Linked DNA regions of Homo sapiens. The protein of the gene in region 3 purifies or fractionates together with the protein of the main gene of each other region. This does not show direct contact. Each region holds a gene or a part of one and is shown on either strand. Other genes may lie near its edges. The genes, in order: NBEA, TANC1 and AGAP3.

The links.
Region 1: the proteins of AGAP3 (region 3) and NBEA purify together in Homo sapiens (affinity purification with mass spectrometry; one large-scale study listed by BioGRID and IntAct). This does not show direct contact.
Region 2: the proteins of AGAP3 (region 3) and TANC1 purify together in Homo sapiens (affinity purification with mass spectrometry; one large-scale study listed by BioGRID and IntAct). This does not show direct contact.

What each region holds. Positions count from the first base shown.
Region 1 is NC_000013.11:35,158,744-35,162,392, reverse strand, and holds part of NBEA (neurobeachin), read right to left. Parts: intron 3,378-3,649; coding exon 2,361-3,377; intron 644-2,360; coding exon 426-643; intron 1-425. UniProt on the Homo sapiens protein: Binds to type II regulatory subunits of protein kinase A and anchors/targets them to the membrane. May anchor the kinase to cytoskeletal and/or organelle-associated proteins.
Region 2 is NC_000002.12:159,227,114-159,230,762, reverse strand, and holds part of TANC1 (protein TANC1), read right to left. Parts: intron 2,945-3,649; coding exon 2,798-2,944; intron 1,968-2,797; coding exon 1,867-1,967; coding exon of another isoform or gene 1,862-1,866; intron 1,186-1,861; coding exon 1-1,185. UniProt on the Homo sapiens protein: May be a scaffold component in the postsynaptic density.
Region 3 is NC_000007.14:151,120,865-151,124,513, forward strand, and holds part of AGAP3 (arf-GAP with GTPase, ANK repeat and PH domain-containing protein 3), read left to right. Parts: intron 1-1,860; coding exon of another isoform or gene 1,861-2,087; exon of another isoform or gene 2,088-2,774; intron 2,775-2,929; coding exon 2,930-3,022; intron 3,023-3,649. UniProt on the Homo sapiens protein: GTPase-activating protein for the ADP ribosylation factor family. GTPase which may be involved in the degradation of expanded polyglutamine proteins through the ubiquitin-proteasome pathway.

The DNA.
Region 1 (3,649 bases), on a different chromosome or scaffold from region 3:
TAAGTTGCCCTTGCTACTTATATCCATCGACTTCCTAATTGTATTCATGCCTATGTAAATGATGTGCTCTCTTAATTAATTTGTTTCACATTTACTATTAAAAAATTAAATTGAAAATTTAGAAAGGCCATGGTTTACTTTATGTAGATTTGTTGTCTAAGTTATCATCTTTGAACTGATATCCACTAACTGCTTAAATACTACAGGCTCTGAATACACATGTCACAGGGTGATTTTAAACTTAAACAGTATATATTATTATCACTAATAAATTTAGTACATGGTATTAATTTAAACAAGATACAAGAAAAATGTGGAAATTCCTTTAATCAAGGCAGATTTTTGGTTTTGTCAAAACCAAATAGAATAGGCAATGGCATATTTTAAATATTTGCTTTTAATTTATAAAAAAGAAATATTTCTACCTCCTCCAAACATGTACATCAGTTTCTAATGCAAATAGTAAATCAGTGAGAAGCCGCTGGTGCATTGGAGACCATTTAAACTCAGGAATACGAAACATTGTAGTCCGTGGACCTGGGCTAAACTGGCGTCGCTGTTCCTCAGTCATTGGCATTCCTCGAAATCCTAAATCAACTCGGAGATCTCGGTCTTGTTGGGTGATAGACCGACCCTGCACAGCCTAAAGAAGGAAAAGATGAACTTTTGTGGAATACAAAAGAAATGCCTCATTTTAAAATGAAACTGTGAGTATAGTAAAGTGAATAATGCTTTAATGCTTTAGCATATGACTTTAGCAGTTTAATATATTTCACATATATTATTCACCTGGTAATTCCTTGCACAGGAAACTTTTTGGGCTGAAGTCTCCATTATTGCTTTTATTTTACTATTGCAGAAACTAGGCAAGATAATCAAATACCTAAAGTTAACACCAAAGTTCACACTGAAAACCAGACCCCTTTACCCCATTAAGAGTCTTTAAATTAGACCACATTACTTCCTTAATGAAGTGAGCATATACACAGTGAAGTATACTGGATATATGTCATCAACTAATTGTAACTAAAGCACAAGATTAGAAAAAATATTACTTGACAGTTTCAAGTTAACTTTGAAGTCTGTTTCACTTACAGTACTTCAATTCAAAAACACAAATGCATTTGATAAGTTAGAAAACAAACCAGAAAAATGTCTATAAACTCCAAATGAAAAACAGGCAAGCCTAGTGTTCAACAGGCAAGCCTATTGTTCAATAAACAACGCACGATGTTTTCCTTTATTTTACATCTGTATCTAATTCAATATGCTCATCTCCTGCCAATTATCACTACAATGCAACTGCCACAAAAATGGAAATTGGCAGTTAGAGAAAAAATAAAAATACTTTCCCCACACACGATATATTATGAAGGATTCTTACTGGAGTACAAAGACACAAGACAGGCATGGTTTACTCTTCATAGTATAAACCTAATGGAAACACATTCAATGTATTTTCAATGACATTAAAAGGCAAGTGGGGCACCCAGAGGATAACAAAACCCAAGTCATTAACGGTAAATGTATTCTTATTTCTTCAACTCTTAACCATAAGGTATTATTTATCCTAGAAAATAAAGAAACAGTCATAACTCAGAGCTCAACAATTAAAATCCATATCAGAAAACATCATCTGTTTTTAGCTTTATTCCAGTGAGGTCAAAACTGAAGCACTAACATTTCCTAACAACCAGACCTAAGAGTCTTTAATTGTCTTATAACAAATTTCTATTCATGTGGTTGAACAGAAAATTCTCACTGCTAACAATTCTAATTTTTCTCAGCCATATTACCTACCTCACAGGGTTGTTGTGAGGATTAAATCTGAAAACATATAGCACAGTGCCCGGAACATAGTAGGCACTGGATAAATAACAGTTCCCTTTTCCCTTCCCCTTCATTTATCAGTTCAATCTGGGCTCCAAGTCCTCTTTTCTATAATCCACAGAACAGGGTTGGGCCTGAAGCTTAAAAGGTTAAAATTAATCAAGTATTCAGAATGAAGATCTTGAGTACAAAATGTGTAAATGTAGTCACAGAGTTATAAAATGTTAGAACTGGCAGAGACCTTAAAGGTCATCCTTTAGTACAACCTCTTGTACTAGATAAGGAAACTTAGGCCCAGAGAGGTTGAGCAAAGTTACACAGAAGAATGTGGCAGAGTTGGAAATATAATTGAGATATTTTTAGTTTCTTACATACATGAAATTATACCGCACTATTTAGTTCCATAAATTACTATTATACTATAATTCAATATAAACATGAAGTAACTGATAAGAAATTACTCTGTTTTGGTGCTAACAACTCTTCAATGCATTTTTATTTATTTCTAGAACTCATATAAGGTAGCTTACTTGTGTCGTAGTAGTTGTTTGGATTTTTCGGATTTCTTTTCCTGATTCTTTGCCATCGTCAGACCTTTCAGTATCTGAAATTATACTTCCTGCATCAATATTTGGTACAATTTTGCTACTAGAAGACTCAGTTTCCAGAGTTGTAGCAGTCATTTCAGCATACTCCAGCCCCTTAGTTGATGACGCTAAGTCTCTTTCAGAAATACTGCTCATTCCATCTGAAGTTGTATGGATTTTGAATTCTTTTTCTTCTATTATACTGGATGTACAAGTTAAGTCTACGCTACCGGTCATGTGAGCAAGCAATCCAAGATCATCACTAACACCAAGATGTACTTGTGTGTCCTGAATATTTGGAATAATGTGATTGCTAGAAAGTTCAGGAAGTAGTTTTTCCTCCTGTTTGGGTATTTTATCAAAGAGAAATGATGTACTACTATTGGGAAGGTCTTCTTTCTCATCTGCTAATGTTATCAATGGACCATTATCCTTTTCTTCATTTTTTTTAATGATACCAACACTTCCATGTACATTGTTCTGGAGTTTCTCAACAGCAGCACTATATACATTATCCAACAGAGATTCAACCTCCACAAGGGCACCATTCTCTCCACCTACTAAAGTCTCCGGTGATAAATCCATATCATCGAGCTTTACTTCTGTTGCTTCCACTTTCTCTGCTTTTATATCTACTAAAAGATCATGTACTTCCACATGTACACCACTTCCTGGTCTATCTGAATTTCCAAGAATATCATCTGACACTTTTGTTGACATGAGTAAGTCTCGAGTATCTGTGCTGACAGGGTAATCGGTCTCACTTTCTGGGCTCTGGCTTTGTGAAAGATCTTCTATCTCTCGAATTTCCATTCCACCTTTTGCTCCTGTTGTCTGTGATGAAAGACCAGAGATGGTGCTCACATTCCCTTTCTTTCCCTTTTTAATGTTTTCCTCCTCTTGTCTTTGATATTCCTCATACATTTTGGCTAGGTATTCCTTATGAGCTTCATAAGTGACCTTAGGAATAAGTAAAGAAAACATTAAGGCATTTTGTACATATCAAAAAGAAAAAACTAAATAATACAAATTAAATTGTGGAAATAGAAAAAATAATGCCAGAAAGTTTAAGACTTCAAAGCTGGCATTTGTTAGTCCTAAAGCAAGTGCTTAGTTTCATTAAGTAACTGGAAATAATCAACAAATACAGCTATATATGATTTATTATAAGGATTGCCAAAATCACACAGATAACTCAGCAATATTAAAAGCTATTTTCTTTTAGGCTAAGT
Region 2 (3,649 bases), on a different chromosome or scaffold from region 3:
TTATATCCTCCCACTTGCATGAGAGAGGGCTTCTCAGTGTTAGCAGACTGCAGGCCAGCTGCAGAAGACGTGTTTGTCAGCAGCCCCTCTGGTGCCGGACAGTGCCAGCTGCGGCTTGGAGGATTGCTCTGCTGTTGGAACCTCGCAGTCTTATCCATGATGCCCATGAACGGCGTGTTGCGGGGTCTGTGCTCAGCTGTACCGCTCTGAACGTGGGTTACAACCTTGTCTTTAATTCTAGTATCTGGTCCTTGGACCTTGAAGCCATCTGAAAAACTGCTGCTCGAAGTCAAACTACTGGTTGAACTTGACATCTTTATGCTGCTGGATGGAGAACCAGAAGAGCCTGAGCTGGTGAGGGAAGCTGGGTGTCGCACGTCGCTGCAGGTCGCCAGCCCACCTTGGTTTGGAGGGGCTGCGTCCACAGCCACGGAGGAATGAGACAGAAGCCTCTCTGTGGTTTTCGTCTTACTTGGTAAAGGGTGTGCAGGGCCATTCTCACCACACTGCAGGCGGACATTCTGGCTGGGGCCCAGCCGATCCCCAAAGTGGCCACAACCAGCTCTTGTAGTGAAAGTACCTGTTCCCTCTAAATGCTGGGTTCTGCTCCCAGCAGGAGTGGCAGCGATTCTCCCTGGCATGGGACTTGGAGGAGGGTTCTGAGAAGAGATCTGAACTTTCATACTGCCATTTCTCACTGCCGACTGGCCAGAGCCCAGGTGCTGGCTGGTTTTCACGATCTGGGCCTGCTTGGAGGGCTGCAGGAGCAGCCCTGGCTGGGCCACAGGCTCTCTCAGGGACTTGCCGATTCCTGCCCTGCTCTGTGGCGATACCGGCCTTCCTTTGGACTGTAACCCTTCTTGAAGGTTTCGGATGTATGAGGAAGGGACAGATGAGGATGGCTGGGACCTGGGAGTTGGGGAAACAGATTCTTCCTGGGGAGAAGTTTCTTCCTCTTCAGTCTCCTCAGAGTGAAAGTGGTCACTTAAGCCAGGGGTTGGGGTGTCCTCTTCGTTCTCGGAGTCGTTGAGTGGAGCTGGTAGCGGGCCCTGCTGTTTTTGCTGTTGACTCCTCTGGAGTTGTTTGCACTCCTCTTCTACGCGGGCCAGAAGCCTCTTGACTTCCTGATTGGTGGGACAGAGTTTCACAGCCTCTTGCAGGTCAGCCAGAGCTGCCACGAATTGCCTTTGTAGGAAAATGTAAGGTAACATTACAAACCACACACGAACATGCTCAGAGTGTAACTGTTCATAAAAGAGCTGTGCTCAAAGGAAAGAGAAGGTAGCAAGTGAGTTTTGAACACTTACGGTGGTGGCCAGGACCCACTTAACCAGCCCAGAGTAACTCAGCTAAGTGGCAGTGCTGAATTCTAACCTAGGTAGGTGGGACTCTACAGCCCTGCTCTCCATAAAGACCACTGGACTGGGAATAGGGAGAAGCATGAATCAGTGGGCGCCAGAATCTTTTTAATATTGTTACCATCCCATGGTAACACTGTGCCCATCTCTCAGTCAACAGGCTTATATCACTCTTCCCCACCTCTGAACTTCCTAATGTCCCTAGTTGGCAGTTTCCTTGAAATATGGACTAAACTAGGTAGGAAGTTCATGTTGCAGTAAGTTTCACGTGGGGGGAGGGGTGGGAAGGAATGATTATTGAGACGTCAGGAGAAAATAGAAGTTTACTCATCACTGATAATGTCCACTACTATGCCTCTTGGAAGCAGGTAGTAATACTAATTCACTACTAAAAAGGATGAGAGGCACCTGAGCAACACTTCTGCAGCAAAACCTCCCCAAATTCAACAGGCAGGTTTGATCCCACAAGAAAAAAAGCTCTAGACACAAAGATAACCACAGACGGTACCTGCTATTTCTCTTCGCTCTTGCTCTGGCATAAAAGGCTTCATAGGACTTGGGCTTCAATTCGAGAGCCTTGGAAGCAAATTCCTCTGCCATGCCAAAGTCCTGGTGTCGACAAGAAATACAGGAGTCAGAAGCAGCCTGGACACACGATTGTGGGAAGCCCGTCTAGTTTTGTTCTAAAGGGTAGCAGCGCTCTGAGGCACAGCCAGAGAGGGAGGAAGGGAAAGTTCCGTTTTCTATCTTGTTTTAAAGTGAGGAGATAATGATGGTTGATTAATATCATTAGGAGAAGAATCCACTATGAAAACAGTGGTAGTAACAGTGCCCCAAGAAGGCCAGATGGTGGAACCTCACAGCCCGGTGGAGGGGCAGCCTCAGAGAGGAGCGCAGACACTGCATCTATTCCGGCAGCAGGGCACAGAAGCAAGCAGCTCAACAGACTGGGGCAGGAGGACACAGTTAAAAAAAAGGTAGGAAGTACTACTGAAACAGATCTACTAGTTACAAATCGACTATGAGTTCCCCACGACCGGTTACAAATTAGTTACTGGCAGACCCTCTGAGCAAACCTAACACAGAAGGCAGGCCCACCACAATAGGCTTGGGTTGGACTCTCCTGAATCCGGGGACGGCAGTGCCAGCAGCAACAGTGTTGGGAAGCTGCAGAGGAGCAGACTGCATTTGCTTCTCATTACTGAGGCCAAGGAAACGAAACCCAAGTGCATTCCTTCAACATCATGCGAGGAGCGTAGCAGCCGTGACCAAACGATAGTCACGGATAGGAGCTGTTTCCCACATGCCAGGTTCATGTAAATGTGCAAGCAAATTGGACAGGAGGGCCCAGGATCTGGTCTGGAGAAGGGCTGGCCTTCACTGCTGGAGAAGGGCTCTGTTGCTGGAAGACTGGGTTGGAATAAAGGGGCACAGCTTACATTTGTTTTTCTTCGGCATCGCGACAAATTGAGATAGAGGGAAACCCTTAATTCATTGAAGGGTCTCATGTCCTCTCCGAATCCTTCTCGAGGAAACTTTCTTAAGGCATACTGGTACCTCTGGGCTGCCTCTTTCATTTTCCCTTTCTAGGATTCAAAAATCACAAACATTTGTCCTTTTTCAGAGGTTCTAAAATGAATAACTCCCACACCTGGAACACCGTGGGGAGTTTACTCCCCCCTGCAAACCCACGACAGAACATTGAAAGCATCCAAACAAGTGTCAAGGTGGGAGCTAGTTCACTAACTGGGCTGGCACATGAGGGCTTCACTGTCCTCACATGCACCCGCATCCTGTGGTTACACAGTGAGAAAGAAGCTGGTTTTACAATAAGGTGTCTGTAAACTGCTAGATTGATAATTACCAAACTTAATGAATCAGATTACCTTCTGGTATGTATTTTTGAAAATTATTTCAAGAATGATCTCAAATCTATTTGAATGCTAAGTGTAATAGAAATCAGATGAAAAACTGATCCTATTCCTAGGACAAGTAGCATCTTGTAGATAAACCTAGAGAGCTTGCTGCAGAATAATAATTTTTCTTCTAAGAGGAATTAAAACATGGGCTTTAAAAATCAGAACAGCACCACACATCATTTTCAAAGCTAAAAAAATCCATTTGCTCAGTCAGTCCCATTGCACAGCAGGTATGAAGCCTGTTGAAAATGGCTTCCTATTTCTGACATAATTGCCTACCAATCCATATTAAAAGCACTTCAAAGCCACAACAATACACTCAACTCAATTTCAAGCTGATTCCAAGCCAGGAACCCTGCTGGGTCATGCTAT
Region 3 (3,649 bases):
GCTGTCTCTCCACTCCCAATGTGCGACACACAGTGCCCATCCAAACCCTAATCCTCCAGCCGGGCTTGGCTGGATGTTCCAGGAGTCTTGGGCCAGACAAAGGTGGGTGAACCCCCGTGTGGGTTGTCACGAGAGCGCCCGCCCCTCCGCGTCACTCCATGCGCCTCTTTCCGAGAGCAGGGCTTGGCTCTCAGCCTGGGCCCGAGTGCGGCCAGCCAGGCCAGATCTCCGGACCCTGCCCGGACAGAGCTGGCACTTCCAAGCCCTGCTCACTCATCCTCGCCTCTGCCTGCCCAGCTCACTTCTCCCTCCCGGCTGCCTGCCTCTGTCCCGAGCCCGCCACCTGCCCTCGCGGCCATCCATGCTAACAGAGACTCTGTGCTGACGGTCCGCCACACATTGCAGCTGCCCGGCCCTGACCCTGCCTAAATGTGCAGCTTCTCCTTTCTATCCATGGCCATTGAGACATTAGAGCGTGGGGGGGGCCGCCTGCTCGAGCCCACACCTGCTGCTGCTGCTGCTGCGGGACCCTTAGGTGCCTCTGTCCACGGTGCCTACTGCCAGGGCCTGGGCACCCTGCTCCCTGGCATCGTGCCTCAGTCATCCGCTGCCTCAGTTCCATTCTTAATCTCCCCTTCCCCTCGTTGGCAAGCTCTGTAGCAACCCCAGGGCACCCCCTGCCTTTCCCTGCCCTGCTACCCTCTCCTCCGCCCACGCCCAGTCCCCGGCCTCCTCCCTTGCGCCCCGTGCTTCCTGCCATCCTGTGCTCTCTGCTGCCTGCCTCGACTCTGCTGCCCTCCCTCCTGGCTGCTCACGGCACGGCCTTCCCTCTGGCGCTTCCATTCTCTCCATCCTCACAGCGGCGACCTTATATTTTCCTTCCATTGTTTCTGTGGTGACCTCACTTGCACCATTGTCCCTGAGACGGCCTCAAGACGCGTCCGTCTCTGTGGGTGTATCTCGGGACCTCCCCTCTCATCATTGCTGTTGGGGCCTCCCCTCTTCTCCCTCATCGTCCTCCCCAGCAGCGACATGCTTGCTCGAGGGCGAGCCCCTGTGTCCTGCCTGCTCTGTGGCTAGTGACCCCCTACTGGACATGGTTGTGCTGTCCCCAGTCTCTCCTGTGACTTCATGTGCTCATTTCGTTGCTGCTCTTGCCCCAGTTCCTGTCCGCATGGGGAGGTGCCCCTCTGGGCTCCCAGGGGTCCTCTGGTGGTCGGGGCCTCTTGGCTCACAATCTGGCTGGGGTGGGCTGCACCCCACTCCCCCCAAACCGGCTCTTCTGTCTGGGGACCCGGTGGCAGCAGTCCCATCCACCTTCCTCCTCCCTGGGCCAAAGGGGCAGAGGGCTGTGGCGGTCTGGGCCGTGGAGCCCAGGAGGGGATGGGGCGGTGCCGCCTGTGGAGCTGCTGGGTGGCACTTTGCTCTCCGGCGGCTCTTTTGCCCGGTTCTCCTTGTTCCCTCTGGCCTTGCTTTCTCCCACGCTGCAGTTGTGGCCCTGTGTCCCCTCGCTGTGCCCTTGGCTCCTGGCAGCCTGGGAGAACGGGAGGGATGGGGCCTGGGCTGCCGAGTGGCGAACATACCATTCCGTGCTGAGGTGGACGCTTGGCCTGTGTCTGCCCAGCAGGTGCCGCTGCCGCCCGCCGCCGCCGCCGCCTCCTCCTCCTCCTGGTCCTCCTCCTTCTCCTCCTCCTCCTTGTCCTTCTCCTCTTCCTCGTCCTTCTCCTCCTCCTCCTCCTCCTCTTCATCCCGCTGCCGCCGCTCCCCAGGCGCCTGGGTCTCTGCCCTCACCGGTGCTGACCGACTTGTGCGGGGCTTGAGTATAACTTGCCAAAATCTTTATTCTTTCGATATTTGCAGATATGTGCCACTGTTTCCAACTTTTCATCAACAAAAAGGCCTTTCCAACTCCTTCCAAATTAGAAGACCAGTTGGTGACACACAGCACCTCTGGACATGCCCCCTGTGCGGGGCCGGAGGCGGGCCGGGCCCTGGGACTGCTCTCAGATGAGAAGCGGCCGCCGAGCTCCCCACTCCAGAGACCCACGGGAACCTTTGTAACTAACCCCACCCCCAGGGAAGGCTAGGAGCGCCGGAGCCCGCGCTGGGGGCTGCCGGGGACCAGGCCCGGCCGGACGCTGCAGGCTCGCTGCATGGAGAAGAAGGCAGCTCGGCCCCACGCCCGGCGCTGGCCAGCGCGACGAGGCCCAGAGGGGCGGGGGAGTCCAAGCCCGCCCGGCCCGGCTGCTCCTGGGGGGCGCTTTCCTGCCCCTCCCCTCCTCTGCTCCTTCCTGCATGGACCTCTGCCGTTCCTGCTCCTGCTCCGGAAGCCGCCGCCGCCGCCGCGCTTGCCTTGCCCCCTCTTTTTGGCCTCCCCCTATTTCCTAGGATCCGCATTCGGGTGGACTCTGCCCCAGGAGCTTGACAGGGTGCAGGGCCTCTTCTGGCCTCTCTCCTCTCTCTGTCCATCCACTGTGCCCCTTGGGCCACGCCGACGCGCTCGGTGCCACGTGCCGTGTGGTGTCTGTGCCGCAGACGGGCCATCTGCCCGCTCACTTGTGGACTTTGCGCTCCCGGTTGTCGCGCCCTGTGCTCCCGACCAGCAGCCCCACCGTCCACCTCCTCGCCCCCGCTTCTCTTACGCCCCCGCCCCGGGCGTGCTCCTCGCGCCCTCGGCCTCTCTGTCCTTGCTCTTTTGTAAGGGGCGGGCCCGGCTCAGTGACCTGTGCTGCTCTGTATGGTGCCGTGTGTAAGAATAAACCCGTTGGAATACTCGTGGTCTCAGTTCCTTCCCGTCCCGCCGCCCCGGCCCGACCCACTGCTAGGGCTGCCCAGGAGGAGGGAGGCAGGAGGGAGGCCGGGAAGTCCAGGTGGGCAGCTCTCGGCAGACCCTGGGCCTCTTTAACACGCCTCTTGTTTTCTCTTCCAGTCTCGGAAGGGTGCTGACCTGGACCGGGAGAAGAAGGCTGCCGAGTGCAAGGTGGACAGCATCGGGAGCGGCCGCGCCATCCCCATCAAGCAGGTCAGCGCCTCCCTTCCCGTGTGCTCCAGGGCTCAGAATGAGGCCCAGGAATGTGGCGCTTCCCAGGGCCTCTTCTCAGGCCTCTGTGATGGGGGAGATGGCATCAGAGGCCAGCACCACCCTCCTAGGCGGAGTCCTTAACAAGGGACTGGCTCTCCAGTGAGAAGCCACCTTCTCTGCGCCGCCACCTTCAGGCCACGAGCTCTGCCTGTACCTTCTGATCACCACCGGAGGGCAGCAGAGAGCTACCTGCCGTGTTCAGCCAGGCGCTCAGCCTGTCCCGCTGGTTCTGGAGTTGGGTCTGGAGAGGGTTGAGTGGCTCTCTAAGGAAAATGAGCAACCCGAGAAGCCTGCGTGGAAGGGGATACTGAGGGCTAGTCCAGCGCTAGGTCTGTTGGCATGGTTTTGTTAATAAGGGCCTCTGTTCGTCTTTAAAGAAAAAAGTAGACTACCTCCTCACCTCTCCCACCTCCTTTCTAGTCAGTCCTGGGGGCCCTGGGCCTGCCTTCTTCCACACCTCCGGTCTTGGATTCCTGCAGTGGACACGGCATTGCCCCACGGAGGGCGTCTCTTTGATGTGTTGAGCCAGAGCAGCTGGGGTGGATGGGGAGGCATGTCTTTGGTGTG